4 separate regions of the Homo sapiens genome follow, and regions 2, 3 and 4 are each reported to be linked to region 1. Evidence: microRNA targets listed by miRTarBase, many of them from high-throughput screens and not tested one by one. Region 1 holds a microRNA gene; each other region holds the end of a gene's coding sequence.

Region 1 (7,581 bases):
TTTTGCAGATGACATGATTGTATATCTAGAAAACCCCATCATCTCAGCCTAAAATCTCCTTAAGCTGACAGGCAACTTCAGCAAAGTCTCAGGATACAAAATCAATGTGCAAAAATCACAAGCATTCTTATACACCAATAACAGACAAACAGAGAGCCAAATCATGAGTGAACTCCCATTCACAATTGCTTCAAAGAGAATAAAATACCTAGGAATCCAACTTACAGGGGACGTGAAGGACCTCTTCAAGGAGAACTACAAACCACTGCTCAATGAAATAAAAGAGGATACAAAGAAATGGAAGAACATTCCATGCTCATGGATAGGAAGAAGCAATATCGTGAAAATGGCCATACTGCCCAAAGTAATTTAGAGATTCAATGCCATCCCTATCAAGCTACCAATGACTTTCTTCACAGAATTGGAAAAAACTACTTTAAAGTTCATATGGAACCAAAAAAGAGCCCGCATTGCCAAGTCAATCCTAAGCCAAAAGAACAAAGCTGGAGGCATCACGCTACCTGACTTCAAACTATACTACAAGTCTACAGTAACCAAAACAGCATGGTACTGGTATCAAAACAGAGATATAGACCAATGGAACAGAACAGAGCCCTCAGAAATAATGCCACATATCTACAACTATCTGATCTTTGACAAACCTGACAAAAACAAGAAACGGGGAAAGGATTCCCTATTTAACCAATGGTGCTGGGAAAACTGGCTAGCCATATGTAGAAAGCTGAAACTGGATCCCTTCCTTACACCTTACACAAAAATCAATTCAAGATGGATTAAAGACTTAAATGTTAGACCTAAAACCATAAAAACCCTAGAAAAAAACCTAGGCAATACCATTCAGGACATAGGCATGGGCAAGGACTTCATGTCTAAAACATCAAAAGCAATGGCAACAAAAGCCATAATTGACAAATGGGATCTAATTAAAGTAAAGAGCTTCTGCACAGCAAAAGAAACTACCATCAGAGTGAACAGGCAACCTACAGAATGGGAGAAAATTTTTGCAATCTACTCATCTGACAAAGGGCTAATATCCAGAATCTACAAAGAACTCAAACAAATTTACAAGAAAAAAACAAACAACCCCATCAAAAAGTGGGCAAAGGACATGAACAGACACTTCTCAAAAGAAGACATTTGTGCAGCCAAAAGACACATGAAAAAATGCTCATCATCACTGGCCATCAGAGAAATGCAAATCAAAACCACAATGAGATACCACCTCACGCCAGTTAGAATGGGGATCATTAAAAAGTCAGGAAACAACAGGTGCTGGAGAGGATGTGGAGAAATAGGAACACTTTTACACTATTGGTGGGACTGTAAACGAGCTTAACCATTGTGGAAGTCAGTGTGGGGATTCCTCAGGGGTCTAGACCTAGAAATACCATTTTACCCAGCCATCCCATTACTGGGTATATACCCAAAGGATTATAAATCATGCTGCTATAAAGACACATGCACACGTATGTTTATTGTGACACTATTGACAATAGCAAAGACTTGGAACCAACCCAAATGTCCAACAATGATAGACTGGATTAAGAAAATGTGGCATGTATACACCATGGAATACTATGCAGCCATAAAAAAGGATGAGTTCATCTCCTTTGTAGGGACATGGATGAAGCTGGAAACCATCATTCTCAGCAAATTATCACAAGGACAAAAAACCAAACACCGCATGCTCTCACTCATAGTTGGGAATTGAACAATGAGAACACATGGACACAGGGAGGGGAACATCACACACTGGGGCCTGTTGTGGGGTTGGGGGAGGGGGAGGGATAGCATTAGGAGATATACCTAATGTTAAATGAAGAGTTAATGGGTGCAGCACACCAACATGGCGCATGTATACATATGTAACAAACCTGCACATTGTGCACATGTACCCTGAACCTTAAAGTATAATAAGAAAAAAAAAGACAGTTTCCAGGTTTCCCACACAGAAGACAGCATGTCTGCCTTAACCTGATCTGTTCTGTAGTGGATCCTGCTGGGTTGTTCAGGCCATGATGGTGACACATGACCCAGAGCCTTCCCTGCATCTCGATCCGCTCAACTTCCCGGCTTTCCCCTCAGTTTTCACTTAAGTGCAGCCTAAAATGACCATAAAATGTCATTTTATGCTAGTTCCCTCCAGATCATTCAAGAGAAGGAAAAACACTGCACCAATTACATTTTAAAACTAGCTCATTTCTTGTAAAAGAGGAGGCACTGTGAACACCATGAGGCTGGTGAAAAGCAAGGGAATAAATGGATCCTTTCTATCTAGGACACAGGGTTGGTGTGGAAAGTAACATGCAGGTAGTCCTGGGGGCCAGGGGCTCATCTGAATCTGATTGAAGGGTGCTGCCCCAAGAGCAGGCTCTTTGGGGAAATTCGAGCCATAGTCCTCAGCTGTGAAGGCAGAGTCACTCAGCGGACCCTGCATCCAAGCTCCCACCCCAGTGCTGTGACAGCCTGCACAGGTGAAGGAACCTTGCTTTTCACACCTCTCACCTCCAGTTTTAGGGTCCTCTTCTGGGGCTTCTTCCCTATTGGGAGTTCATGATCTGATTTCATTTCCTTCTGGAGTCTCTGTCATGTTGGCAGTAATGTCTTCAATGAAACCAGCTAATGCCTACAGTGGTTTAATCTCCCACCTTGCAGAAAATATTCACATTTTAATAGACAACTCCTAAAAATGCAATGCTTTTCCGATCTGGAGGCGGTCCAGTGGTGGGCTTCTCATCAATGGGAGAGATGTTTGGGGAGAAACTGCCTTCCTTGCTACCCTCCTACCCCCATTGTGGAGTCTCAGTCACCTGGTCTGGGGACCGGAGGTGAGGAGCAGAAGGCATCCTCAAAGCCCAGACCCAAAGTAGGCTGTGTCACCCTGCAGCCAGCACCAGCTACCTGCACTGGGCCAGAGGTGAGCCAAGCTGTGTACGGAGAGACGAAACTAGGACAAAAAAGGGGGCTGAATGGGTGACACCTGGGGTGGTCCGGGTCGGCCTCTCTCCCAACACCCCACCCACCTGCCCACCAGAGCCTGGACTTTCCCATGGTCTCTGTGCAGTCCCCTGTGTCGAGTCCCTCAGGACAAGCGGAGCAGGCTCTGCTGCGGACCTGCGTCCCTCCGGCTGCAACACAAGACACGAGGGGTCAGAGCAGCGCCCGGGTCCTGTGTTGTAGCCCGAGGTCTCACACTGTGTCATGGTGAGCCCGACCTGCAGCACCTGCCTGGCCTCCTCTTCCAGGTGGGCTGCCCAGCTTCTGCTTGGGGAATCCGACTTGCTGTGCATCCCGATGAGGAAGCTGTAAAAGAACAGAGGTCAGCATCAGTAGAGGGTCCTGGGACTGGGGCTCAGCAGAGGCCTTGACCTGAGGAGTCTTGGCTGTGATGGGCGAGGAGTCCTGCCCGGGGCAGCATAGATGACCTGTGCTCCAGGTGAGCAGCGAGCCTGATGGAAATGCTCAGAGAGGTGAGGGGCTTTGCACGCAAATACTTCACTGTCCACATACCTTTTCCTTTAAACAATGAATTATGGCTGTTTACAAGCCACTAATTACAGTTTATCATAACAATACTTCCTAGGAAATGGGTTCCTACTCTAATACTATGATGAGAATTTTGTAAACGCCAAGCTAGTACAATGAATTGCCCTGAGTTATAATAAATATCTGCACTTTGGGAGTAAGGCAGTAAACACAACATTACTGCTATCCATTTCCTATAGGCCTCTGAAGGATTTATTACTTATTTATGGTTTCTTTTTATTCAAAAACTCCTACATATCATTTTTTTGCAGATTATTTTGGATGAGTCATTTCTGGTTTTTTTTACAAAATAAAACGCGGTAGGCCCAGAACCCAAAAAGCGTCCCAACTTCAGTCCCTCCAAAGGTGACTTGTTGAGATTCCTCCCCGAGGCGCGCAATCCTTGGCTGAGCTCCACAGAATTCCTGGGCTGTGGGAATGAGGAGTAAGCGGCGGTGTTGCTCTCCTTATTTCTAGCTTCAGTAAAGTGGACCCATCAGTTTTGTTCAACGAATCTTTTGGGAAGGCTGTAGACTTTGAGCCCAGATGGGACATTAAACAGAAGTGTAGAAATTAGGTGTCACATCGTTTTCTACCAACAAAAGAAGATAAAAGTAGAAGGAAGAGGGATAACAATATCATGCCCACATTTTGTACAGGAACTTAAAATTGAACAATTTAGAGGGAGGGAAATCCCTTCTCTTCCTAAATTGTCTAAAAGACTGAGGGGCTCTTCCCAGCTGACCAGGGTACTCCCCACTATATCTGAGTCTGTGCAGACCTATACAGGCACATGTTCTCCAAATAAGTTATTTTCCCCTCCAAACTCCTTTCTCAGGCTGGGCACTCATGATCTAAGACTGCATCAGGCCCTGAGAAGCAACAGAGGACTCATACACTTTTTTTGTGTGTGGTTTTTTTTATTATACTTTAAGTTTTAGGGTACATGTGCACAATGTGCAGGTTTGTTACATATGTATACATGCGCCATGTTGGTGTGCTGCACCCATTAACTCGTCATTTACATTAGGTATATCTCCTAAAGCTATCCCTCCCCTCCTCCCCCCATCCCACAACAGGCCCCAGTGTGTGATGTTCCCCTTCCTGTGTCCAAGTGTTCTCATTGTTCAATTCCCACCTATGAGTGAGAACATGTGGTGTTTGGTTTTTCGTCCTTGTGATAGTTTGCTGAGAATGATGGTTTCCAGCTTCATCCATGTCCCTACAAAGGAGATGAACTCATCCTTTTTTATGGCTGCATAGTATTCCATGGTGTATACATGCCACATTTTCTTAATCCAGTCTATCATTGTTGGACATTTGGGTTGGTTCCAAGTCTTTGCTATTGTGAATAGTGCTGCAATAAACATACGTGTGCATGTGTCTTTATAGCAGCATGATTTATAATCCTTTGGGTATATACCCAGTAATGGGATGGCTGGGTCAAACGGTATTTCTAGTTCTAGATCCCTGAGGAATCGCCACACTGACTTCCACAATGGTTGAACTAGTTTACAGTCCCACCAACAGTGTCAAAGTGTTCCTATTTCTCCACATCCTCTCCAGCACCTGTTGTTTCCTGACTTTTTAATGATCCCCATTCTAACTGGTGTGAGATGGTATCTCACTGTGGTTTTGATTTGCATTTCTCTGATGGCCAGTGATGATGAGCATTTTTTCATGTGTCTTTTGGCTGCATAAATGTCTAATTTTGAGAAGTGTCTGTTCATGTCCTTTGCCCACTTTGTGATGGGGTTGTTTGTTTTTTTCGTGTAAATTTGTTTGAGTTCTTTGTAGATTCTGGATATTAGCCCTTTGTCAGATGAGTAGATTGCAAAAATTTTCTCCCATTCTGTAGGTTGCCTGTTCACTCTGTTGGTAGTTTCTTTTGCTGTGGACTCGTACACTTTTTAACACATCATTGTCTCAGGGCCCAACACACGGCCTCTGAAAAATGAGAGCCTGTCACAGAGCCACCAGGCAGTGGCCCGCTACTGGCTATTGGGAGAAGCTACCCAGTCCCCAGAACCCAGCCCCCTGCTTCACAAGTCCAGACACCTGATGCTATCCAAGTGCCCAAGTTTGGGGGGCTGGCTCCTGCTGACAAAACTCTGAAGAAACTGAATTCTGCACATGCTTACCTTGCCTTTGAAAGGCAGCAGAAGTGGAGTTGCATTATTGGGTTCTGTCTGAAGAAAGTGAAGGTATCCCAGTACTCATCTGCAACTTCTGACTACAAGCATGTGCAGCAGGCACCCTGGAACTGTATTTTCAGAAACTAAAGAACACAGAGGCAGCTAGGACAGTGGGGAGAAAGCCCGTGCTGATGCAAGGACAGGGAGACCTGAGCTCTGGCTCTGGCCTCGCAGCAGGGAGCAAGTCATGATGAGTAAATCCCAGAAGCTGACCCAGAGTGGCTGCCTGCATGACTTGCTTACTTGCATGATGCTTAGACAGCTGGCTGATTCTCAGATTCCCCAGGAACCAAAATGCAGGCCAGGCGGTAACAGAGCCTCAGCCTGTGGGAGCCCCCTGCACCTGCCTCACAGCACATCCTCCCAGGTGTTGCAGGCCAGGCCTTCTTTCCCAAGTCAGAAGCCAGGCCCATACGGGCAGCTCAGCTGGAACAACGGAGGTGCAGGTCCAAGGCCCAAATAGTGGAGAGTAGGTGGTGTTGCAGGAAGATGAAGACAAAACAAGCCTCCTGTCCCCCCTTACTGCCCGGGATCTTCTACCTCAACCCTACCCAACATGGTCCTGAGGGGAACCAAATCACTTCCTCTATGCCCATCCTGAGATGGGGCTATCTGACTTGTTTGTGCCAACAAGAGGTCAGAGTGAACAGAATGGGAACCAGAAAGAAAAGCTTAGAGGAAAGCTTCAAGCTCATGAAGCCCACCTGCGGGACAGGGGAACAAAGAGATCAGCAGGCAGCGGGGTGCAGTAGGCTGGGGCAGAGGGGAAAGAACGCTGTGGTTATTAAGTCTGTAGCAGGTGGAGGGCCAGGGGTCTTCTCATGAATAAGTTCTCGAATTTTTTTTTTCCTTATTTTTTATTTCTTTTGAGACAGAGTCTCACTCTGCCACCCAGGCTGGCGTGCAGTGGCACAATCTTGGCTCACTGCAACCTCCACTTCCTGAGTTCAAGAGATTCTCCTGCCTCAGCCTCCCGAGTAGCTGGGATTACAGGCACATACCACCATGCCTGGCTAATTTTTGTATTTTTAGTACAGACAGGGTTTCACCATGTTGGCCAGGCTGGTCTCAAACTCCTGACCACAACTGATCCACCCACCTCTGCCTCCCAAAGTGCTGAGATTACAGGCGTGAGCCACTGCGCCCAGCCTCAGAATTATTATTTAAGGAAATTACTCACTCTTGTATTCATTTAACAAACATAACAGGCATTGCGCTAAGCACTGGACATAAGGTAGTGAATGCCTCACCCATTTGGGCCACGGTTGGATTCTGTCACCTGCAGCCAAATGCTATCCTATTTCACATCGAAAGGGACAGAAGAGAGGTTAAGGGTGTGGGCTGTACGAGGATCTAAGCTTCAGAAGCCTGGGATGGGGAAGGATTTGGGGAAACCAGGGGAGAATTTACTAATTGAATGGCCAGTGGCCTTGGTGAAGTGCAGCTGGATCTCAGGGAAGAAATGAGCCCACATAGAGTGGCCTGACAGCATCCACCCAGGCAGGGTAGTAGGGGCTTCTGGGCAGACTCAGGACAGACTGAGGCCTGCAGCCAGAAGGCCGTGGGCAGAACTCCCACCCTGGGCTACACATCCAGGGTGCAGGCCCTTGGGTGTCTCCAGGAGGGAAAGAGCTTACTACGACCTGTCTGGTAGTTTGAGAAGAAGGGCTGTGCCAGAACCAAAGCACCCAGAGGGCCCTGATTGTGTGCATGCCAGCAAAGGCCTGACTTCCCTGGGAGACAGGCTCCTCGGCCCCTTATGGGGCTGTCCCCAGCGTACCCCAAGCATGAACCTAGACTGTCCTAGTATAACAGACTTGGCTGAGGGAGCAATGAAGAA
Region 2 (7,581 bases), not on the chromosome of region 1:
GCTCCGTGCTGGCAGCATGCAGCACGCATTTCCGAGCCCTGTTCTCAGTGGCAGAAGGAGATCAGACCATGAACATGATCCAGCTGGATAGCGAGGTGGTGACAGCAGAGGCCTTTGCTGCACTGATTGACATGATGTATACCTCCACCCTCATGCTGGGGGAGAGCAATGTAATGGATGTCTTATTGGCAGCCTCTCACCTGCATTTGAACTCTGTTGTTAAGGCATGTAAACATTACTTAACGACAAGGACGCTGCCCATGTCTCCCCCCAGTGAGCGCGTTCAGGAGCAGAGCGCCCGCATGCAGCGCTCCTTTATGCTACAGCAGCTGGGACTAAGCATCGTGAGCTCAGCCCTCAATTCCAGCCAGAATGGCGAGGAGCAGCCAGCCCCCATGAGCTCTTCCATGCGCAGTAACCTGGATCAGCGCACGCCCTTCCCCATGAGACGCCTTCATAAGCGCAAGCAGTCTGCAGAGGAGCGGGCCAGGCAGCGCCTCCGACCCTCCATAGATGAGTCTGCCATTTCAGATGTTACACCGGAGAATGGGCCTTCAGGGGTTCATTCTCGGGAGGAGTTCTTTTCACCAGATTCTCTGAAAATTGTGGATAATCCTAAAGCTGATGGAATGACTGATAACCAGGAAGATAGTGCGATCATGTTTGATCAGTCTTTTGGCACTCAAGAAGATGCCCAGGTGCCCAGCCAGTCTGATAACAGTGCTGGCAACATGGCACAGTTGTCCATGGCCTCTCGTGCAACTCAGGTTGAGACTAGTTTTGATCAGGAAGCTGCACCTGAGAAAAGTAGTTTTCAGTGTGAAAACCCTGAGGTTGGCCTTGGTGAGAAGGAGCACATGAGAGTGGTGGTTAAATCTGAGCCCCTGAGCTCACCTGAGCCTCAGGATGAAGTGAGCGATGTGACCTCACAAGCAGAAGGCAGCGAGTCTGTGGAAGTGGAAGGAGTTGTGGTCAGTGCCGAGAAGATAGACCTCAGCCCTGAAAGCAGTGATCGGAGTTTTTCAGATCCCCAGTCTAGCACAGACAGGGTAGGTGATATCCATATTTTGGAAGTCACAAATAACCTAGAGCATAAGTCCACTTTTAGTATTTCGAATTTTCTTAACAAGAGCAGAGGAAATAACTTTACTGCAAATCAGAACAATGATGATAATATTCCAAACACCACTAGTGACTGCAGGCTGGAGAGTGAGGCCCCCTATTTGTTGAGTCCAGAGGCTGGGCCTGCAGGTGGGCCCTCCTCTGCCCCTGGCTCCCATGTAGAGAACCCATTTAGTGAACCTGCAGACTCCCACTTCGTCAGGCCTATGCAGGAGGTGATGGGCCTGCCGTGTGTGCAGACTTCAGGCTACCAAGGAGGAGAACAGTTTGGGATGGACTTTTCCAGGTCTGGTTTGGGCCTCCACTCCTCCTTCTCCAGGGTAATGATAGGTTCCCCAAGGGGAGGAGCCAGTAACTTTCCTTACTACCGCCGCATAGCTCCCAAAATGCCAGTTGTAACTTCCGTCAGGAGCTCACAGATCCCAGAAAACTCTACCAGTTCTCAGCTAATGATGAATGGAGCTACGTCCTCATTTGAAAATGGCCATCCTTCCCAGCCTGGCCCTCCACAGTTGACCAGGGCATCTGCAGATGTTCTGTCAAAGTGCAAGAAGGCCTTATCAGAGCACAATGTTTTGGTTGTAGAGGGAGCTCGCAAGTATGCCTGCAAAATCTGCTGCAAAACTTTTCTGACTTTGACAGATTGCAAGAAGCACATCCGTGTTCACACAGGTGAAAAGCCTTACGCCTGCCTGAAGTGTGGCAAGAGGTTTAGTCAGTCCAGCCACCTGTATAAGCACTCAAAGACTACCTGCCTGCGCTGGCAGAGCAGCAATCTTCCCAGCACTTTGCTCTAGCTGTTTGTCCTTACAAGACAACGCTGAGGCCAGTTGTCAGACTGAATTTCTTTTGGTAAGCAGTTAATGCCTTTGGGTTCGAGGCTTCCAGCTGCCCAGTGGCTCTTAAACAGTTTAGCAACTAATAACCGGAGAACTAACATGTAGTATTTGTGCTGCTGCATTTCTGAGTGAAGTGCACGTCTTGGGAAAGGGATGCAATCCCTGAAACCAGGTGCTTCCTTGGGGTTGAGTAATGCAGTCAGAAAGTAGTTTGTAATTGATATTAAAAGTGGCACATTTAAAAATTTAAAAATTGAAGTGCAAAAAAAATTTTTTAGCAATTTTTGTAAAACTGTGTAGCATTTAAATTTCCTATACCTTCTGATGGGAGTATTATATCCCTGTATAGTGATGCAAAATGCACTTATGTGTAACCAGTGGTGATTTGGTGCCTGTCTTAAAGGAAGGCCTTTGAGGACACACCTGTCTGCCACAAATGCTTTAAAGTGTATCATGAGCTAGTCCTAGGCCTCAAAGTACTGTATTTTTTATTTTTACCTGATTTGCAGTCATAAACACTGCACTTTGGTGCTGACACTGGGTCCAGAGTGAGCATTCTCTTGGACTATTAGATGTATATACTTTTGAATACATCACTGTTGGATAGATGTTTTAACAGTTTTTTCTGGTTTAAAAACCAAATTGTAAATGGAGTGTGTACTTGTAGAGAGTGACAAGGTATTGTTTCCCTATGTGCTGTTTGAGCAGTATTTTAACCAACTTGTATTACAGATGTTACAGTTCCATGTTAGGAAGTCAGAAAAGACTTGTGTTTGTCTTTGTTCTGCTGATGTGGAGTCATGTTTTGTGGGGTCTTCCATGGCACATTTACCTGTTGCTCCGTCCAGATGTTGAGGGCCAGTCTAGGCTGACACATCCTACCCGAGGACAAGCCTGTTCTCCATTTCTTCACTCTCCCCTCCCCATATAGCAACTCTCCCAGGTTTAGATTACCGTTTTCGACGACAGATTAACCAAAAATGCCCCACACAGGTTTTATTACTGTTATATACTATACTTTTAACAGTACAGACCCTAAATTTTATTATTTGTTGCTCCCCCAATCTGATACCAAATGTTTAAAGTTGTTTGAAATCCAAACATGGTAGTGTTCATGGGTAAATATTTTCTAGGCTATGTAAGAGTTAGCAGCCCATAGCATAGAAGTAATCAAGTAGCATCTGAGACTGTTGGAGGCACTAGGGCCTCTCTGGGCCCTACAGCCTCACTTCCCCAGCCTCACCTTGCTGTCCTCTGACACTGCCATCAGGGCTGTTAGTGGCACCTGTATGAGGCCAAGTGTGCGTCCAGGGGAACAGCACAGGTTAATGCGTCTCCCTAGAACTCATGAAGTCAGTTTAATTCATGCATGAACATGAGTTCATTTTATGTTTTATATAGCTTTCTTAGACATACCAAACCATCATTCATAAATCAGATAAATTATTCAGTTTTTGTGTTTAGAAAGCTAAGTATGTGTAGCTGGAAACAAAAATGAGCGTGTTTTCTCTCCTGTTAATCTAGAGTGTGCAGTTACACATGTGTGGATAATTTCATGTTCCAGGGGCGCTTGGCATCTCCCATGGACTGATTCCCAGGAAGAAAAGCCCAAAGGGAAACCCACGATTCCTTTCGAGTAGATGTGGGAAAGAGCCCATTGGAGGATATGAGGTCCTGTGAAATTCAGTTGTGTGTGTGGCTCCTTGTTAGCAGTCATGTTGACATGGTGTTAGGAGGCTCCCCATCCACCCTTTACATGATGTAGGGACCAGTGTCTTGTGAGATTAACCTTGGGACACAGTGGGTTAGCCTGGAGAAAATGAGAGGCCCTGCCTGGACCCAGGGAGAGGAGCCAGTGACACAGGCAGAGCGGTGCAGCCCTCCTTCCCTTCCATTTGGAGGAGGTGGTGCCAGGAGCCTGCCCGCTTACCTCTGCTGAAGCATAAGTGGACTTTGCTTTTGGGGCTTATCTCTGATACATGCTGGAGCCCTGCCTCTCCACTGCTAGATGGAACCTGGAATCTCTCATCTACCTCTTAGTCTGTCAGTTTCTACGTGTGAGAAGCAAGCTTGTGGGCCAGTGTCCTTGTACATGCTGTAGCACTTAAAAAATAATTCCAGGGTTCCCTGGAAAACCAGTCCCAGGGTTCCTATGATCTGTAGTTTCTACCTGGATTATAACTGGTTTTGGGTACCTGAATTTTGATTGGTTAGCCTTAATTATAGTCTGGCGTGATCATGTAGAATCTTTTCTGGTGAACAGATCATAAAGTTCTATCAAGGAGTTCTATCAAGGCATCCATGTCAGTGGTGCTATGCTGGTTACAACTTGAGATTTTTGAAATAAAAAATTTGTCATATTCATGCCTCTAAATATGTGTTCTTTTTCTTTACGTTATTAAGGTTGAAACCAAAGAGGGTAATATCTCTTTGCCAGCCCTTCTTTGACTAGTACTTTGTTTTAAACCAAACCTTCTATTAACAGTTAATTGGTCGTTCCTCTCAAATCATTCCCTTCTGCCTTCCCCCGCCTTTTCTGTCTTTGAGCTACGCACATGCATGAGATTTTGCTTTTCAGTCTACCCAGTTGCTCTCTGAGGGCCTGCGTAATCTTGTGCTGCTCCCTGGACCTGCCTCCCAAGTTGGAAACTCCATCTGCCAGTTTGGCTTGGCTGCTGGGAAGAGCTGGAAGCTGATTCCTTGAGCACAGAGCAAGGCATTGGCAATGGCAGTGCTGTGGCCTGACCTTGGAGAGAAGTGGGTAAGGTGGTGATTAAAAAAAAAAAAAATCCACCTGGGGGCAGGGAGGGGCTGGGGGGACAGAATGGGCAAAGGGAACAATATGTGTAGGTGCTGAAACTAATTTTAAAATTAAACCCACCTACCTCTAATCGTTCTGACCAAAATAAGAGTTACGTCCTTACCTAGTTCTCATTTCTTCCAGTTAACTCCTTTTCTGGAAGTGCTCCTTAATTTTCCTGATGGTCTAGGTATCAAGATTCAAGTGCCATGGTCACAACTGGGTTCTGTTTGTCCCGTCCTTGGTGAGGGACAAGTGAAGGAATCTGGGCAGAGAAGATGAGGGGTAAGGTGGTTTGGACACGTTCCAATAAGGAAAATGCCCAGGGCTGAGGGCTGGGGTGGGAAGCAGAGCCAGGCAGATCATTGGATGCTGTGACTTTGAAACATGCTCTTTGTATTTTTAAAGTTTTTTTTGAAACGGTGTCTTGCTACATTGCCCAGGTTAAGTGTAGTGGTGATTTAAAGAGTGATCATAGCACACTGCAGGAAACGGTATCTTGCTACATTGCCCAGGTTAAGTGTAGTGGCGATTTAAAAAGAGTGGTTATAGCACACTGCAGCCTTGAACTGGCCTCAAAGGATCCTTCCCGCTCAGCCTCCTGAGTTGCTGGGACTATAGGGGTGCGTCACCATGCCCAGCCATATCCACTTGTTAGCTTCCCCATTTACAGGCCAAGACGGTCTCTCAGAGAATTATTTAATAATAGAATTACCATACTTTTGGCGCAAATGTGTCCAACACCAATGTGACAAGTACATATATCAGAATCACTCTTTCCTCAGAGAATCACACCTTCCCTTGGCTCTGCCTGTGGATCCAAATCAAGCCTGGGTGTGTCTGACAATACCAGGGCACGGTTTGCTTCCCGGCCCTCCATCTCTACTGTTTGGCTACAGCTTGAGTTCACTAGGCATCGGCTCCCCTCTCAGGCCAGCCAGCAAGTTGTTAGCTGCCAACAAGGACATGGTGTTGCGGGTTCTGTGGGTGGCACTGCCAATGTGGGGCAGAATCACTGGAAAGGAGAGAGAGAGAGAGAGGGAGATAAGAAGGGTGGTTCAGCAGCCTTCAGCTGGGCTGTTTTCATGGCTTGGGTTTGCCGGTAAGAAGAATAAAGAGAGACTACCTCATGGTTCCATGCTTTGCCTTCTCTCCCACCTTCACTAAGCTTGACACTCCCCCAGAGCTGAGGTTCAGACTAACAGAGTGAAGGGCCTCCAGGCTACTAAAACCCAGTCACAATGTGATGAAAGATTTGTATTCTAGGGCTGGGCGCAGTGGCTCATGCCTGTAATCCCAGCACTTTGAGAGGCCAAGGCAGGCAGATAACTTGAGCTGAGGAGTTTGAGACCAGCCTGGGCAACATGGCAAAACCCCGTCTCTACAAAAAATACAAAAATTTAGCCAGGCGTAGTGGCCCACACCTATAGTCCCCGCTACTTGGGAGGTTGAGGCAGAAGGATTGTTTGGGCCTGGGAGGCAGAGGTTGCAATAAGCTGAGATTGCACCATTGCACTCTAGCCTGGATGACAGAGGGAGACTCTGTCTCAAACAAAAAAATGGTGAACGCATAGGAGTTTAGCACTGGCCACCTGTACCATGTGCCCTTGAAAATGATGCCACATGACCACAAGGTTTCTGATCTACAGAAATAACTCCAAAATGAAATGCTGAACAGCACAGTTATCTCTGATCCCACCCCAGAGCAAGTGAACTTACTTGCCCCCAAAGAACCGTCAGCTGGGTGCAGTGGCATATTCCTGTAGTCCCACCTACTCCAGATGCCGAGATGCAAGGTTCGCTTGAGCCCAAGAGTTCGAGGCCAGCCTGGACCACATAGCGAGACATCATCTTTACCAAATAAACCCCATAAAACTGCTTTTGGGTTTTTTCCAGGTAGAAATCATGTTTCCTTTTAATTGAGTACATTTTCTTCTTTAAATTTTATCATTATTGTAATAGGGTCTTTGTTGCCCAGGCTGGTCTTGAACTCCTGGCCTCAAGTGATTCTCCTGTCTTAGCCTCCCAAAGGGCTGCGATTACAGGTGTGAGCCACTGCGCCCAGCCATAATTCAGTACTTAATTCACAGAGTTTCTTCTCCTCTCTGGTAACAATTAGGTCCCCTCCTCTCAAGAACATTGCATCTGATCAAACTGAGAGCCAGCATGAACATGGACCCCAAACCAGAGCTTTCAGAATAACAATGAACAGCAAAAACCAGCCTTTCCCTACACTTAGGAAGGGACTGTGAATGGCAGGGTCCAAATTTTCACCATCCAAATAGAAAACCCGGAGCTGAATGCCAACATGGAAACCAAAATATGTCAGGAATGAAGTATAGTACCCCTTTACATACTCAAGGTCAGGATAGGTTTGGAGAAATTTGCATCTGACTATTTGGCCTCTTCTAGTAGAGAAGAGTTTTTGAGACAGGGTCTTGCTTTGTTGCCCAGGCTGGAGTGCCATGGCATAGTCAGCTTACTACAGCCTCAACCTCCTAGGCTCAAGTGATCCTCCCACTTCAGCCTCCTGAGCAGCTAGGACTAGAGGTACATACCATTACACATGGCTAATTTTTTATTTTTTATAGGGATGGGGTTTCACTATGTTGCCCAGGCTAGATTCGAACTCTTGGTCTTAGGTGATCCTCCCGCCTTGGCCTCCTAAAGTGCTGGGATTATAGGCGTGAGCCACCCTAATCAGCCCCACCCCAACGTTTCAGACATATAATGAATCAGAATAAATCCGCTCACTCACAAGAAACATTCCTGGATAATGGTTTTTGGTTGCTGAGATTGAGTAGCACATTATTTCAAAGT
Region 3 (7,581 bases), not on the chromosome of region 1:
GGGCTCTCGGCCCCACCCCCGCCTCCAGCCCGGCCCCCGCCCCCGCCGCCACCCCCGCCCCCACCCGCACCGCGGCCCAGGGCCTGGCGTGGATCCCGGCGCAGATCCCGGCCTGGGTCCAGGCCTCAGACACGGAGAAGCTGCTCTGGTGACCTAGACGGGTCGGGGGATCCTGGCGGCTTAGGGGACTGGTTGCTGGAGGTCGAGTTTGGTCAGGGTCCCACAGGCTGCTCTCATGTGGAGAGCTTTAAAGTAGGTAAGAACTGGCAGAAGAACCTGAGGTTGATCTACCAGCGTTTCGTTTGGAGTGGGACCCCAGAGACTAGGAAACGTAAAGCAAAGTCATGCATCTGTCACGTATGTAGTACCCATATGAACAGACTCCACTCTTGTCTCTCCTGTGTCTTTTTTGGCTGCTTCACTGAGAAACATATTCACAAACATGCAGAAACAAAGCAGCACCATTTAGCTGTAGACCTTTATCATGGGGTCATATATTGCTTCATGTGTAAGGATTATGTATATGACAAAGACATAGAACAGATTGCCAAAGAAACAAAAGAAAAAATTTTGAGATTATTAACTTCCACCTCAACAGATGTTTCTCATCAACAGTTTATGACATCAGGGTTTGAAGACAAGCAATCAACCTGTGAGACAAAGGAACAGGAGCCAAAATTGGTGAAACCCAAGAAAAAGAGAAGAAAAAAGTCAGTCTATACTGTAGGCCTGAGAGGGCTAATCAATCTTGGGAACACTTGTTTTATGAATTGTATTGTCCAGGCACTTACCCATATTCCTCTACTGAAAGATTTCTTCCTCTCTGACAAGCACAAATGTATAATGACAAGCCCCAGCTTGTGTCTGGTCTGTGAAATGTCTTCGCTTTTTCATGCTATGTACTCTGGGAGCCGAACTCCTCACATTCCCTATAAGTTACTGCATCTGATATGGATCCATGCAGAACATTTAGCAGGGTACAGGCAGCAGGATGCCCATGAGTTCCTTATTGCAATATTAGACGTGCTACATAGACACAGCAAAGATGATAGTGGTGGGCAGGAGGCCAATAACCCCAACTGCTGTAACTGCATCATAGACCAAATCTTTACAGGTGGCCTGCAATCAGATGTCACATGTCAAGCCTGCCATAGTGTTTCTACCACCATAGACCCATGCTGGGACATCAGTTTGGACTTGCCTGGCTCTTGTGCCACATTCGATTCCCAGAACCCAGAGAGGGCTGACAGCACAGTGAGCAGGGATGACCACATACCAGGAATCCCCTCACTTACAGACTGTCTACAGTGGTTTACAAGGCCAGAGCACCTAGGAAGCAGTGCCAAAATCAAATGCAATAGTTGCCAAAGCTACCAGGAGTCTACTAAACAGCTCACAATGAAAAAATTACCCATTGTGGCTTGTTTTCATCTCAAGCGGTTTGAGCATGTAGGCAAACAGAGGCGAAAGATTAATACCTTTATCTCCTTTCCCTTGGAGCTGGACATGACTCCGTTTTTGGCCTCTACTAAAGAGAGCAGAATGAAAGAAGGCCAGCCACCAACAGATTGTGTGCCCAATGAGAATAAGTATTCCTTGTTTGCAGTGATTAATCACCATGGAACTTTGGAAAGTGGCCACTATACCAGCTTCATCCGGCAACAAAAGGACCAGTGGTTCAGCTGTGATGATGCCATCATCACCAAGGCTACCATTGAGGACTTACTCTACAGTGAAGGGTATTTACTGTTCTATCACAAACAGGGTCTAGAGAAAGACTAGTCTTACCAGACCACTTACTGAAAAAAAAGTAAATGATTAGGCAAGGATTTTGAAGTGACACACAGACCTACTTGGAATGGACAATGACAGTAACACCTATGTGACAGCTAGTATCTTGATATAAAGAACCTATTTTAGCATGGCCCATGGGTCTGTCGGAAGAAAAAAATGAATACTAACCAGTGACCATTCAACCTTAAGAAATGGGGAGAGGGAGAAGAGGTTGAAAATGGTCACATAAAGCATAATGAAATGAAAAGAATGCTTTAGGTGGGGACAACGGGAGTAGAAGTGTTCTGATGCTACTCTATGTCATTTGTTTTTACAGAAATATCTTGTGAAGTCAGGGAGTATTCCTTTATCAGCAAAAACTTCACAATTGGTGTTCCAGCTGTGGCTGACCAGCTAAATAGTTTGAAAGAAAAATAATATTTTAAAATAAAGTTTAAAGAGCTTTAAAAGAAAAACATTTAAAAAGGAAAAAATCATTTTTAAGATTTTAAAAGAAAAAAACTTTTAAATGTTGAAAAAAATTTAAGTTGTTATTTTTAAAAGAAATATTTTAAAAGTTAAAAATAATTTTTTAATTTAAAGAAGTTTCAGAATTTTAAAAATTAAAAGCAAAGAAAATTAAATTCTTAAAGTTTAAAAATGTAAAATAAATTAAGGAACAAGGTTAAAAATGAAAGTTTACCAAAAAAAGGAAGAAAATACTGTTAAAAATTAAAGTTAGAAACAAAGGAACATCTTAAAAGTTTCAAATGAAGGAAAATAATATAAATAGATATTTCAAAATTAAAGCATAAAATATACGTATTTAAAAAGTGTTAACAAAATTACTACTATAATGATTAAGAAATAAATTTTCAAAAATACAGAATGGAATGCAATTCAGATTTTAGAGAAAAGTTTTAAAAGAGGCAAGTTTAGAATAATTCAAGACAAAAAGACAAAATGTGTTTAAAGACAAAAATTGAAAAAATACAGGAAGAAAATAGAGACTTGTAAAATAAAAAGAACCTTAGATAAGTTCAAGAGATTTAAATGAAAACTTTAAATATTTAAATAAAGATTTAAAAATTTAAGCTTTTAAAAAGAAAAACAGTTACATAAAAATTGACCAGTGAAAAAATGTGAAAGATTCAAGTAGAAAAAATTATTAAAATTAAAAGTTTAAGAAGTTCTATTTTTTTATTTAAGCATATTAAAATACAGACGGGTATGAAAGAAATAAATGGAGGAGACAGGAATAACGACAGCGGTGTGTGAGTATATATATATATATATATTTTTTTTTTTGAGCTTTATGTTGATATATCAATATACGTTGGAAAAGGAAATAGACATTTTAATCATTATCTTACCATCCAATTGTGAAATGGCTGCAAGGCCTAAACACTAACTAACCCACCTTCCCCTCTTGAGATTCCATGCCCCATCTCATATCCTGAAGGAAGTCAAATTACTTCCTAGGCAGAATCAATTCATCTGAGAAAAATGAAAACATTAGGGACTTTCCCATTTAGAACTGCATTATTCATACAAATTCTTAGCTTCTGAAAAGGGGCTCTTGATAATTTGGTGGCTTAGAGAAGTTAGATCACAGCTGTGAAGCTCTGGCTTTGGTATTTGAGCCCCATGGCCTGATTGAGGAAGTGGCAGGGACCCATATCTGAGGCCTTCCCACCTTCCTTTTTCCCTCTTCCCCCTCCAAGGAGAAACAAGACCTTTAATTTCCACAGTAGAGCAATGGGTTTGTGCTTGCAGTCCTTCTGCTCATTCTTTATTCCCTCTTTATTTCCTTTTTTTGTCACTCATGCCTAGTTCCCTGAACCCCTTACTTACCTGGCCTTACCTACATCTCTGAGCCCCAGCCTGCAGGGCTCCTTCTTTGACTATTCACCTGGTGGCTTTTACTCCTCCTTCAAGACCCAACTCACAGATGACTTCTCTGGAGTCTTCCCTGAATGCTCTAGGCAGGTATAAATGAGAAAATTGTTCCTCTCTTCCCCTCTTTATTCCTCTCACTGTGCCTCCAAAGTACTTTGTCCATACCTCGGTGATAGTACTTATTCTACTGTGATTTTATTGTAGCTTTGTGATTGTCTGCCCCTCTGCACTGAGCATCTAAGAACAGGGGGCCAAGCCTTATTCATTTCTGTGTTAATAAATATTTGTTAAATGTGAAGATGAGTTCAGTTATTTGCTCTATTCACCTTGTCAGTAATGTTTTCTCACCCCTTCATCCATCAGGCTGCCATTAAATGCCCAGTGCTATACTACAGTGTGATCAGTATTGTATTTTACCCCAAAGCAGGATATGAAAAGCACTCAGCTGCAGGGGCTGGCTTAAGAAAGGTGCTCAGTGAGAAATAGCCAGGTGTGTGGAGGGAGGCCCAGGTACAATGCAGAGAAAAGAGCACAGGCCTGGAAGTTGGCAGTCATGGAAGACTGGGTGGGGATGAGGAGCAGCAGCTGAAGGTGAGGCTGAGCTCTCTGGCATGTGTGTGGCCACACTGCCCCTCATCACAGTGTTCCTCAGCAGCAGTGTCTCACAACTGTGTACCACACCTCTCTAGGGTTTACCACATTAGTTTACCTTCCCCGTGAGACAGTAGTACCTCATCACTGCACAGTGTTCTTCATCACACTGCACATCATCACTCTACTACAAGGGAGTGATGTCTGGTAACAGTGTTTATTGAAGAGCTGTAGTTTATTTTTCTGCTCGGCACCCTCATTTTCCCGCCATTCTTTGTGGACCTATTGGGGCTACTGATCACTTTTCCCTGCCTCTGTCACCCCTCCCCAAGTGGGCACATCACTCAGGCTGGGCCAGATTAGAGTTCTCAATTCCCCTGTCCCTCTACCAGTACCCCTCCCACAGGAGCATTTCTTCTGAGGGTGGGCATAGGGCCCAAGTAGGGCCAATCAGAGTCTGTTGCTAAATTGAAGGTATGTGGACACTGGAAGAAAAAACGTGTCTCCCTCCTGATCCCACCCCCAAGCTGTAGTCACTATGCTATGATAACCTGATTCTGGGACTTTGAGAGGTCAATATCTATAACACAAAGAGAAAACCAGAAAGAACTGGAGATTGGGAGAAAGAGCCCAGGGAACATCGTTTGAACCTTGTGGATCCAGCTGTGCCAGAAGCGCCAAAGTTCCCAGCTATCTGAGCCAATAGAGTCCTTTGTTTTGCTTAAGCTAGTTGTCAGTTGGGATCCTGTCATTTGCAGCCAAGGGTCTTGAACATACTAACCAAGCTATATGATTAGTGGAGCATCAGTTCCTAAGACCACAAAGCATGAGAGAGAAAAGGGAAGGAGGAGTGACCTTGGATGAACTTCATCATATAAAATTAAGAAACTATAGTGGGTCCCTGTACATCTTTAAGAAGCAAGTTTCAGCTCAGCCACTGACCTGTGCTAGACTTCAAACCTTACTCACAGTAATGAAATGCTTATTCCAAATAAAAGGGAAAAAAAGCAATAATGTTATATGAGTACTGATTTAAATCAGGCACTGTGTTAACTGCTTTACCTTTATTATCTCACTTGGTCCTGGGTCCTCATAGTTCTGGGAGACAATCATTACTGAACATATTTCGCAAACTGGGAAAGTGAAAATCAGAATAGAAAAGTGATTTGCTTAAGTTCACTCTACTGTTCTAATCAGTGAAGCCAGTATTCAAATGCAGGTCCCCAAAGCCCATGCATGTCCCATCATAATCCAGTATAGATAATTCAAATATATATATTTTTGCTTTTCCTGATTTTGCTATGGAAGACAGGATAAACCAGCGTGGTACAGAAGGCAGCTTCTGACAAATCTGGATGCAGGTAACCTGCAAGGAGAGAGTAACCTATCTACTACACAAAGTTGCCCATGCTACAGGGGTATTTGTTTCTGTGGAAATGGCTGATTCAGATAGATCAGGCTAAATGACTTTCCTAAGGATAATCATGATGGATGAAGCCAAAATATTACCCCCAATATAAGACATATAGCCTCACTCAATGCTATATGCCAGGCTGAGCCCCAAGACGTGACTGTAAGATCTCATGTTTTTGCGGTCTGTAAAACCATCAGCTCTTTAGCCATACAAGACTTCTTTTCTAACTTCAACACCATAGCCATCACTTTGAGTGTCACTTTTATCACCCCTCTCCCTCAGATCTTCCCAAAATGCCCACAACACCAGCTCCTCCAACGAGCCCGGGGAGGGACTTACCTATTGGGACCTTACCCAAGTGGTCCAATACTGATTTGTAATGTACAGCTTCTGTTGTTTCTGAATTACTTTCATTTCCTTTACCTTGATTCTCTTCCAAACACACAGTAGTGGCTACTCCAGGCTAGGGCCGGACCTATGTGTTTATAAATCCCACAGGCCTACCACAGTTTATGGCAGGTACTTAACATGCTAGCTGAATGAATATATGAATGAATAAATGAAGACATTCCGTTCTACACTCTAAGCCTCAGCTTCAGCAGGTGACTTCATGTCCTATTTTTCTGAAATCAAAAATCTCATAAGAATGCCTGATTTACCCACATCTACACACTTAAGTTTCCATCCATCCTCCATGCCTTCACTGTCATTTCAAAGGAAAAGGAATACTGCTTCTTTTCTGAAGCTTCACCCACTAGCCTCCTTCTTCTCGTCCATTCCTAACAGTCAGAGGGCCTTACTCCTACACACTTCCCTCTATTCTAGTAACAGCCATGTTTTTGCTAGACAGATAAAATCCAGCAACTAGACATCCTAGATTTTCTATGGTAGTTCCTCAAAAATGTTGTCCCATCATCTCTGTAAGAGATAAAAAAAGTATTCCAAATCCCAATACTTCTCCTGAGTGTATATTATCCCCAGAAGAAACCCAAGAGTCTGTTTTAAAATCCAGATTTGGGGATCATGTTTAAAAGAAAAATACATTACCTTTGCTCCCCTTCCTTTTACTGCCAAACTCTTTCACATGTGTTTTTTTCATACATTATTTTCACTTACCTCCTGCTCCATCTTTAGTTCCCTGCATTCTGGTTTCTGCTTGCACCACTCTGTTGAAACTACTTTTGCTTAAGTTAAAATGACTTATTTTTTCAAAATTCCTTATTTTACTACTTTATTCCATTTAGTAAAGAGATATATGATATTTGCAGATAACGGAACAACAATCACAGAATATTTGAAGTTAAAGCTTTCCCAAAAAATCCAGATCATAATGTTGCCATGTTGGCTACCGTTTAGGAGCAGTTTCCCCTTCCCTTATACCAGGAGGGTATGCCAAATCTGAGAAAGGGACTGCAGCTAGAGGTGGAGCAAGTGGAGTTGAGGAAGGGATTGCACAGAAAATCAAATTTTTAAAAACTGTATCATGTTTTAAATGTATCAGAGAAGTTGGTATCTAAGGACAGGTGTAGAAAATCCTTTTTGTATGCAGATGAGGCCTTATCCAGAATCTAACCATGCCCTAAATTGATCTGTTTTTAAAAGAGTCCCCTTAAAGACACACCTGTATTCTATATGCAAACTTACAATTTGAACCCTCTTTCTCACCAACCCTTTAATAGAGAATTAAACTGACTGGCCTATGATTTCTACTTATTTATGATGAGGTACCTGTGGTGAGGCCTAACTAGGAAGAAGATGACTGAGGCACCAGAAAGACTTGAGCTGAAATCACATCCCAGATTTGCCATTTATTAACTGGCAACACTGGGCCAGTAACAGAGTCTTGTGCACAGCCCTCCAAGGATTGTAGAGGAGACTAAAACTAACAGTCTTTGTAAAGCATT
Region 4 (7,581 bases), not on the chromosome of region 1:
AAAAAAAAAATAGAAGATACAAACATGGTTGTTCTAAACTCATTGAAATATTAGCAATGTCTGTTCTTTCTACCAAATCCCTCTTCTGTCATCTCACAATCTATCATTTGCATTTAAATAAATTTCAAGTGAAAGTATATCTTGACTACTTCTCTGACTACAGAGAAGTAGAAGAGTACTAGAAGACTGAAGAGTGCTATTTCAAACAGCCAAATAAAAATGTTAATAACATAGTGGGAATATAAAATGGTGCAGCCATTTTTGTTTTGTGGAAAACAATATGGTGGTCTCTCAAAAAATTAAATACAGAACTACCATCCAACCCAGTAATTCCACTCTTGGGTATATGCTTATGAACTAAAAGCAGGGAACAGATATTTATACACCCACGCTCATAGCATTATCCACAATAGCTAAAAGGTGGAAGCAACTCAAGTGTCCATCAATGGATGAATGAACAAACAAAATGTGACATATACATACAATGAAATATTATCCAATCTTGAAGAAAATTCATGGCTGGGCGCAGTGGCTCACGCCTGTAATCCCAGCATTTTGGGAGGTGGAGGTGGGAGAACTGCTTGAGCCCGGGAGTTCAAGACCAGCCTGTCCAACATACCAAGACCCCATGTCAATGGAAAAAAAGAAGAAGAAAGTTCTGGCATATGTAACAACGTGGATGAACCTTGAGGACATTATGCTCAGTAAATAAGCCAGTCACGAAAGGACAGCTACTATACAATTTCACCCATATGGGGTACCCAGAATCGTTTTCATATAGAAAGTGGAGTGCAGGTTGCCAGGGGAAGAGGGGAATGAGGAGTTATTGCTTAATGGGTACAGAAGATTAAACGTTATGGAAATGCATGGTGGTGATGGTTGCATAACAATATGAATGTACTTACTGCCACTGAACTACAAGCTTATGAATGGTTAAAATGATAGCTTTTATGCTATATGTATTTACCACAATAACAAAAATTTCAGTTTTATCTGAGATTCAATAGCTTAGGGAGAAAAAAACAGGAATTAACTGTTAAAAAAATGTAGCTAACATAAATCATCTGTAAACGTCATTTACACAGACGGTCAACATGCCTAATTAAACCATTTTTACCAATTTCGGAACAACAGTCTTCTTCAAGTGATCTTCCATGACTGTCTAAATCTGTTTTCTTTCTTTCTTGAATTCAGCAATTCTAAGTAGTCTACTGAGAACCCTCTAACTAGCAATCACTGATAAGAATACCAGTCAGGAGAAAAATCATTAAAAGCTCTAAGGCAAGAATAGAACTTCCTTCAGTTCAAGGACCTTGACTTCAAAGTCCAAGTCAAGTCAGCTTAACCTATTAAAAGGCTACTTGTCAAGTTATGACTCCCTGATCTATGAAAAGCAAGATCCTAAAAGTAGGCAAAGTGGTTTCACCCCCCAAGTGATGTCAAAGTCCATTCTTTGACATATATTTTAACTCACAGGCCTCAAATCCTCATTTGAAAATGAATTCCAAAAGCTGGTTTTCCTAAGGAGAGTGATGAGAATTGGCCTGCCACATGGCAGAGTTTGATTTTCCCCTTTCTCATATTTTCAAGAGGTATTTCAATGACTACAATTGCTCAGTTATGACATTTAAGAAAAACATCCACATGACAAGCCCCGTTCCCTTCTCTCCCTCTCCTCTTCTCGTGGAGTGGAGGTGTTGGGGAAAGGGTGGATTGCACTCTTAAATTTATTTAGAACACATTCACTAACACATATTGTAATTTCATTTGGCACAGAAAGCCTGGTCTAAAAATTATTTTAGTCCAAAACGTACCAAATACAGAACAAAACTTTACACCAATCCCTTCACTTATCCAGAACCCTGGAAAAGCTGGTTTTTAACTTTATTGTCATCTCTAATAAAACAATTCACACATGAATGATCATGTCTGTACAACCACAGTGACTAAAAGTGTTTTTCTCCTATGAAATACTATGGAAAAATTTGATTCTAACTTTTTTAGTACCAGCTAAAAATTGAAACAGTTTGACGTATTTAGTGTATTTGCAAAATAATGAATAAACTTTAACAGAGTTAAACAAATATTTAGAAAAATTGTAGGAGGAGGTTTTGGCTCAAGGAAACGAAGAACTAAAAGCCACACTTCTGGTTTCCTTTCCTTCTATGAAAGGTTCCATTCAGCAGCATGTAACTTAGGTTGAACATGCGAAACTGGTTTTCATACCAAACACATTGTTGCTTAGATAACAGAGTATCTGAGATGAATTTAAGCTACAACAAGCTCAGATTTTAGAAATTATAGCTGAACTCTTTCTTCCTTTGTATTAGTATTATATTCTCTATATAAAATTTAACCCTTAACATCAAGGCTGACCGGGCAAATGTGCCAAAAAACATTCCTATAAATGGAATGTGCAAATAGAGAAGAGATTTTTTTAAGCAGCACAGTTCCTTTTTAAAGAAATGCTAGGTTTGGGAAGAAAGGACATCTAGGGTCTACCCTGATCTGAAACTCATCCTCCTCTGACACTACGTGTTTATGGCAGCATTTCTGTGCCCTTGGGCAGTGGCCCTCTCTAATCCTGGGATCAGGATGACCTTTGCAGGATCATAGCAGGGCCATCTGGGATTCAGGACTGACTTATTCAGAGGGTTTTCCACTAAATATGCACCCCGACACAAAGATCCCAGGAAGCATCACAGAAGGTGTTAGGTAATCTATCACCTTCAGATCTGCCAGAGAAAACAGAAAGCCCAGACTCATTTGACAAGGACAACCTTGGTGCTTGAAAATGTGTATTTCTTGAGTGGCTAACTGTCATTACCCACTCTTATAATCCCATAGTTTAGTAGTCCTAAATATTCATACTTCCCAGACCCTGGCTTTCTTTTTCATTAACTTATTTTACTAAAATCTTAACATCTTAGATATCTTTACATTTTGTTTTATTTAATATTTAGATATACATGTTTTTCTTAGCCATAATGATTTAAAATCCTAATTTAATGAACTCAATTTCATGAAGCCTTGAGCACGATTAAATGCATTTTGTCAGCACCAGGCTACTTTCAAAAATGTGTTTAGACTTCTCACCCTGACAGCTGTTCTCTTTGCACTTTGCTTTTTAAGTAACACACTTGAGGAAGGCTGACATCAGTCAATCTATATTTGAACAGAAGAAGAGACCTTCCTTTGTTAGAATTTCCAGGATGCATCATTTAACTTCAGCATGAAGCATACTGTGTTGACCCAAATAAGGGCACTGCAATTAGAGCACAAACCAAGGTAAGGGCTGATTCTCTATGGAATAGCCTTTCCACATATAATCATTTGTACCAAGGAAAGTATTACATTAGGAGATTCCAGGGCCTTATAATAATTTCAAAATGTAACAAAACAAACATGGAAAATGCCAAATGCCTTAAAGGAAGACAGAATTTTAAAACTTCCCACCTCGATGGCAGGTTAATAGGTGCAGCAAACCCCCATGGCACATGTGTACCTGTGTAACAACAACCTGCACATTCTGCATTTGTATCACAGAACTTAAAGTATAATAATAAAAAATAATAATAAAATCTCCCTTCATATGTCACTTATAATCCCATCTTATGGTATAAGTGGGGACACTGTTAGGGCTACCCCAGAGCTCATAGGACATTGTGAAAATGGCACAATTCTGTTTCCTTGGAAAATTAGCTAGTGTTGCAAAGTCACGGAAGTGACAAACCTACAAAATGCTCTAAAACTCTACAGATCAACCATTTACCCTCTCTCGGTCTAAAAACCTAGTAAGACAATAAAATACCACATGCTACCTAGAATGTAAAACAAGAAATTAATAATTTTTCGTAATGGGAAAGAACGTATATATTTTTCCCAAATAAATATTAATGGCTTCTCTTTTTAGAAAAACTTTTTCTCACCATGGAGATAATATTAGCCACTGAAACATTTCAAGAAAGGATTTGAGGATGACTACCAATAGACATTAATGCTGGAAATTTATTTCCACAGCTTGATTATACACTAAAATAGCAATACCCAGCTCTAAGTCCAACAGAGAGAAGCTAAAGCAGAAAGAAAAGAATTCCACCTCACTTAATTCATCGATCAATTCTTCCATTACTTTCTTTTAATTCAAACATGCATACACAAAGAAAGGTTTCTGTCCTTTAATTTTTTAACAGAATATACAGAGCCACACAATACGATTTCAATTTCAAATTATGGGAGATCATATTCAAATATGCTTAGGTTTGACAAGTTGCTGTTACAATACTGAGAAATTTCATGAAAACGGTATTTAACAATTTTTAAGATAATCAAATATCTTTTTGCTACGTGGGCCAACGCATTAATACTAACTTGTTTAAAAATGCAGTCTTTTAGACTTCAAATTATTATAAAACAATATCAAGATCATATAGATATACTTCCTGATTACTCAAAACTCGTTCCATTCTGATGGAGGCTGAAGGTAAATGTTATTATACATTAGAACATTTCATGAAACCACTTCTCCTTTGCACTTACCTGTAAAAGTCAAAAATTAAACCACAATTTCCTAAGACATAACTATTTCTAGAATACATTGGTGTAATCATAAAAGACTACAAGTAAATTATCATTTTTATACTAACACTTTTTACCACAACAATCTTTCCTAAAAAGACCAAAAAAAATTGGGAATTTGGATTTCCCTTAACATAACAGGATCTCATACTTTCTGATTTTAATAAATTTCCACTCTTTTTCCAGTAGGAACTATCTACACAGCACAGTGCTACATATAATTATACCAGTGAGATGTACGTTCAGATTCACCATATAACCAACACAGTGGTACCATACAAAGTTTTTCTGCAGGTAAAAATGCTAAGAAAGGCCACAGTGGACAGTGCCCGACAATGAATACAGTAAATTCCAGGTGCCACCGAGCTTCAGAGACCACAAGTTTCAAATATTTTTCAGCAACGGAAAGAAAAAAACATGTAGAGAAACATAGAGTAAAAATATATAATTCCACTATCAATAAGGTACTTTTCCAGATAGTGTTTCCTTCCTTAAACTGGCAAATGGAGCTTAACAGAAAATTACAGAAAGTGAACAAGATCATAATACGAAAGGAAATCTTCCTTGTTTTCTCATCAAAGGAATGCACTAGGATTCGCGCGGGGGTCTTTCTGGTTCCTGTATCTGTAGGTCAGCCAAACACCCAGGATCTGGAATGGGGAAAAAAAAATAAAGTAAAGAAAAAGAAAGTAACATTTATGTATATTTATTCAGTTGATCAATAAAATAACTTTGGACCCTCTCAATCGCTTTGCATCTTTTGTTCAACGGGGAGAGATTTTTTTTCTTTTTGAAATGAAGTAAACCAAATGACGGGCGCTGAGAAAAAATTAAAACGAACACTGTGGTAAACTGAATGACTGGCCCTGAAGGATGTCCATGTCCTAACCCCTACGACCTGCAAATATGTTACCTTACACAGTAACAGGGACTTTGCGGGTGTGGTTAAGGGTCTCAAGATAAAGAGATTATTACCCAGGTGGGCTCAATGATATAATCACAGGGGGACACATATGACGGAGGCAGGAAGGACAGAGTCAGAAACATGGAGAGAAGACACCGTGATGGCAGAAGTAAAGGGAAATAGAAAGAGAAGCTGCAACTCTCCTAGCTTTGAAGATGTAAAAGGAGGGCTGGTGAGCCTGGCCTCCAGAAGGTACCTTTATTTTAAACTTTTGATCTCCAAAACTGTAAGACAATAAGTTTGTGTTGTGTTAAGCAACTATGTGTGTGGTAACCTGTTACAGCAGAAATATGGAAAACTAATACAAAGTCAAAGTAGTCTAAATAGCTAAAATAGCATATATTTTGATAATTCAGGAATAAACTAAGTTCAGTAAAATTTAAGTAACAGCAAAAAATCTTAAAATGAATAAATTTTCCAACACAGAAATTTAAAATGTTATAATTCCTACCTCTCTTGGTAGGAAGAGATGAAGCTGTTACTGTGCCATTTCCCGCACCAAGTTCGCTAAATTGTTAGCCAGTATAGTTTTTTAAATTAAGAAATGTGTGCTCTGTTTCTGTTTCAAAGTTGGTTTATTTTAAATAAATGAAAATTGTAACTCTTTAGGCTAAAAAAGATACAAAATTTTAATAGAATAAAATGAGTTTTAAACTGTATCTCCCACTTTATACGTGTGCCAACTTTTAACCTAAATTTTGTTTATGTGACTTTGTAGCCACCATTAGCCCTTTTAAACTACTTCTAGAGAGTTAGGTAAGTCCCAGATTCTCTCCACTGACCACAATAAGAATCCACAAATTACTGTAAGATTCATAACTGGCAGTGTTTATAGCTGGTGGACTGAGGTCTGCAGGTTGAATCAAGGAAAGGTAAGCCTGATTTGAAGATGTGGAAAGTCATCTGTTTTGGAATCCATCTAATGGGGAAAAAGAAATGTATTTAACAAACATAACAAAGAGTTCTTTATGAAAGGTACCATTCTACAAACTACAAATTCATATAATCCCCCCAATAGCTTTCACAAAATAGATACTATCAATATCGTCATTTTACCAGTGAGGAAACTGAGGCAACAAGAGGTTAAACAAAATAATCACACAGGTCCTCAGTGGTAGAGCCCATGTTCAAACCTGGAGCCCATAAACTACCCCACTTTTGTGGTTTTATTCGGTAATCTGACATGTCACTGGCTGTTCTCAGCCACACTAGCTGTTACAACACGGAAATACTTACATATCTGTAGTTAAACAACTATTTCTTTGAGTCCCCCCGCCCCACCTCAACCTGCCCAAATATCACTTGCCAAAGCTCCCCACCTTGGAAATTTTCAGCACAGGGAGCTTCTGGTCAGAATTTTTGAGGATGTTAACATTTTGACTATCACCCCTGGATATATGCTGAGAGGGTAAATCACAGTCCTTGGGGGAAGAAAGCAATCAAACAAACTAAATACTCATAATCCGGAGCCACATTTTACCAGAATTGTATTCCTCCAACTTGGCTATAAGCGCCAAAAGGGGAAAATCTCTCCCCTTCCTTGCCCGACTGTTCAGAGAGGGATAGAAAGGAAGGCTACATCCAAAATGCAAAAAGATCAAAACTGGATAATTATTGAACTTCAAGCTTACAAAAGTGCTCATGATTAAGAGGGCACTTTTCAAAGGTAACTTTGATTAGATGTCATCAACTCTGCGGTCTCTAGAACCTACACTCAGTGTGCAGTAGGTCACCAAAATATATTGCTCATAACATGAAAATGTATGTAGAAAAATAAAGTACATGTAGAATATGCAATAAGCTGGTACTCATTTTACTAAATATAGAACGGGCAGAAGGAAATATGCCACAATATAAATGATTGTTTCTGAGTAGGTAATTTTAGTAGCTACGTCTAATTTTTCATCTTCATAATTTTTTGTAGTTTCTCAAGTTACTACAAAGAACATATATTAATCATAGCTTTTTTCAGATTCTAAATCAATGTTTCTCTCATGGTTTAGGTTTGTTTAAAGGTATAATAAATAGTTCAAATCAAA

What was found. The annotated mature microRNA hsa-miR-187-5p reads GGCUACAACACAGGACCCGGGC and lies in region 1 at 3,182-3,203, opposite strand. An mRNA with a match to its seed (bases 2 to 7 or 8) in the 3' UTR can be bound and repressed. Matches are read on the target gene's strand: a 7mer-m8 pairs with bases 2 to 8, a 7mer-A1 pairs with bases 2 to 7 and ends in A, and an 8mer does both.
Region 2: miRTarBase lists ZBTB5 as a target of hsa-miR-187-5p. Seed matches in the 3' UTR shown: 7mer-A1 at 2,257-2,263 and 7mer-A1 at 4,058-4,064.
Region 3: miRTarBase lists USP51 as a target of hsa-miR-187-5p. Seed matches in the 3' UTR shown: 7mer-m8 at 3,871-3,877.
Region 4: miRTarBase lists TSPAN13 as a target of hsa-miR-187-5p. Seed matches in the 3' UTR shown: 7mer-A1 at 4,788-4,794.

The regions. Positions count from the first base shown.
Region 1 is chr18:35,901,690-35,909,270 of GRCh38, forward strand. MIR187 (microRNA 187) reads right to left here and starts at 3,237; the gene lies at 3,129-3,237.
Region 2 is chr9:37,434,856-37,442,436 of GRCh38, reverse strand. It overlaps ZBTB5 (zinc finger and BTB domain containing 5), which reads left to right. Exons shown (of 2, transcript NM_014872.3): 2 at 1-4,335. The coding sequence ends at 1,919. It overlaps GRHPR (glyoxylate and hydroxypyruvate reductase), which reads right to left. Exons shown (of 9, transcript NM_012203.2): 9 at 5,447-5,776. The coding sequence ends at 5,655. Among named protein-coding and RNA genes, the nearest start is that of GRHPR, 16 kb to the right of the region's middle. RefSeq lists an enhancer at 7,397-7,581.
Region 3 is chrX:55,481,005-55,488,585 of GRCh38, reverse strand. USP51 (ubiquitin specific peptidase 51) reads left to right here. Exons shown (of 3, transcript NM_201286.4): 3 at 1-3,970. The coding sequence ends at 1,782. Among named protein-coding and RNA genes, the nearest start is that of USP51, 5.1 kb to the left of the region's middle. RefSeq lists a silencer at 1-55 and an enhancer at 1-182.
Region 4 is chr7:16,781,064-16,788,644 of GRCh38, reverse strand. TSPAN13 (tetraspanin 13) reads right to left here. Exons shown (of 6, transcript NM_014399.4): 6 at 4,109-5,228. The coding sequence ends at 5,154. LOC124901593 (a long non-coding RNA gene) reads right to left here. Exons shown (of 2, transcript XR_007060228.1): 1 at 6,862-7,581; 2 at 6,099-6,461. Among named protein-coding and RNA genes, the nearest start is that of AGR2, 20 kb to the left of the region's middle.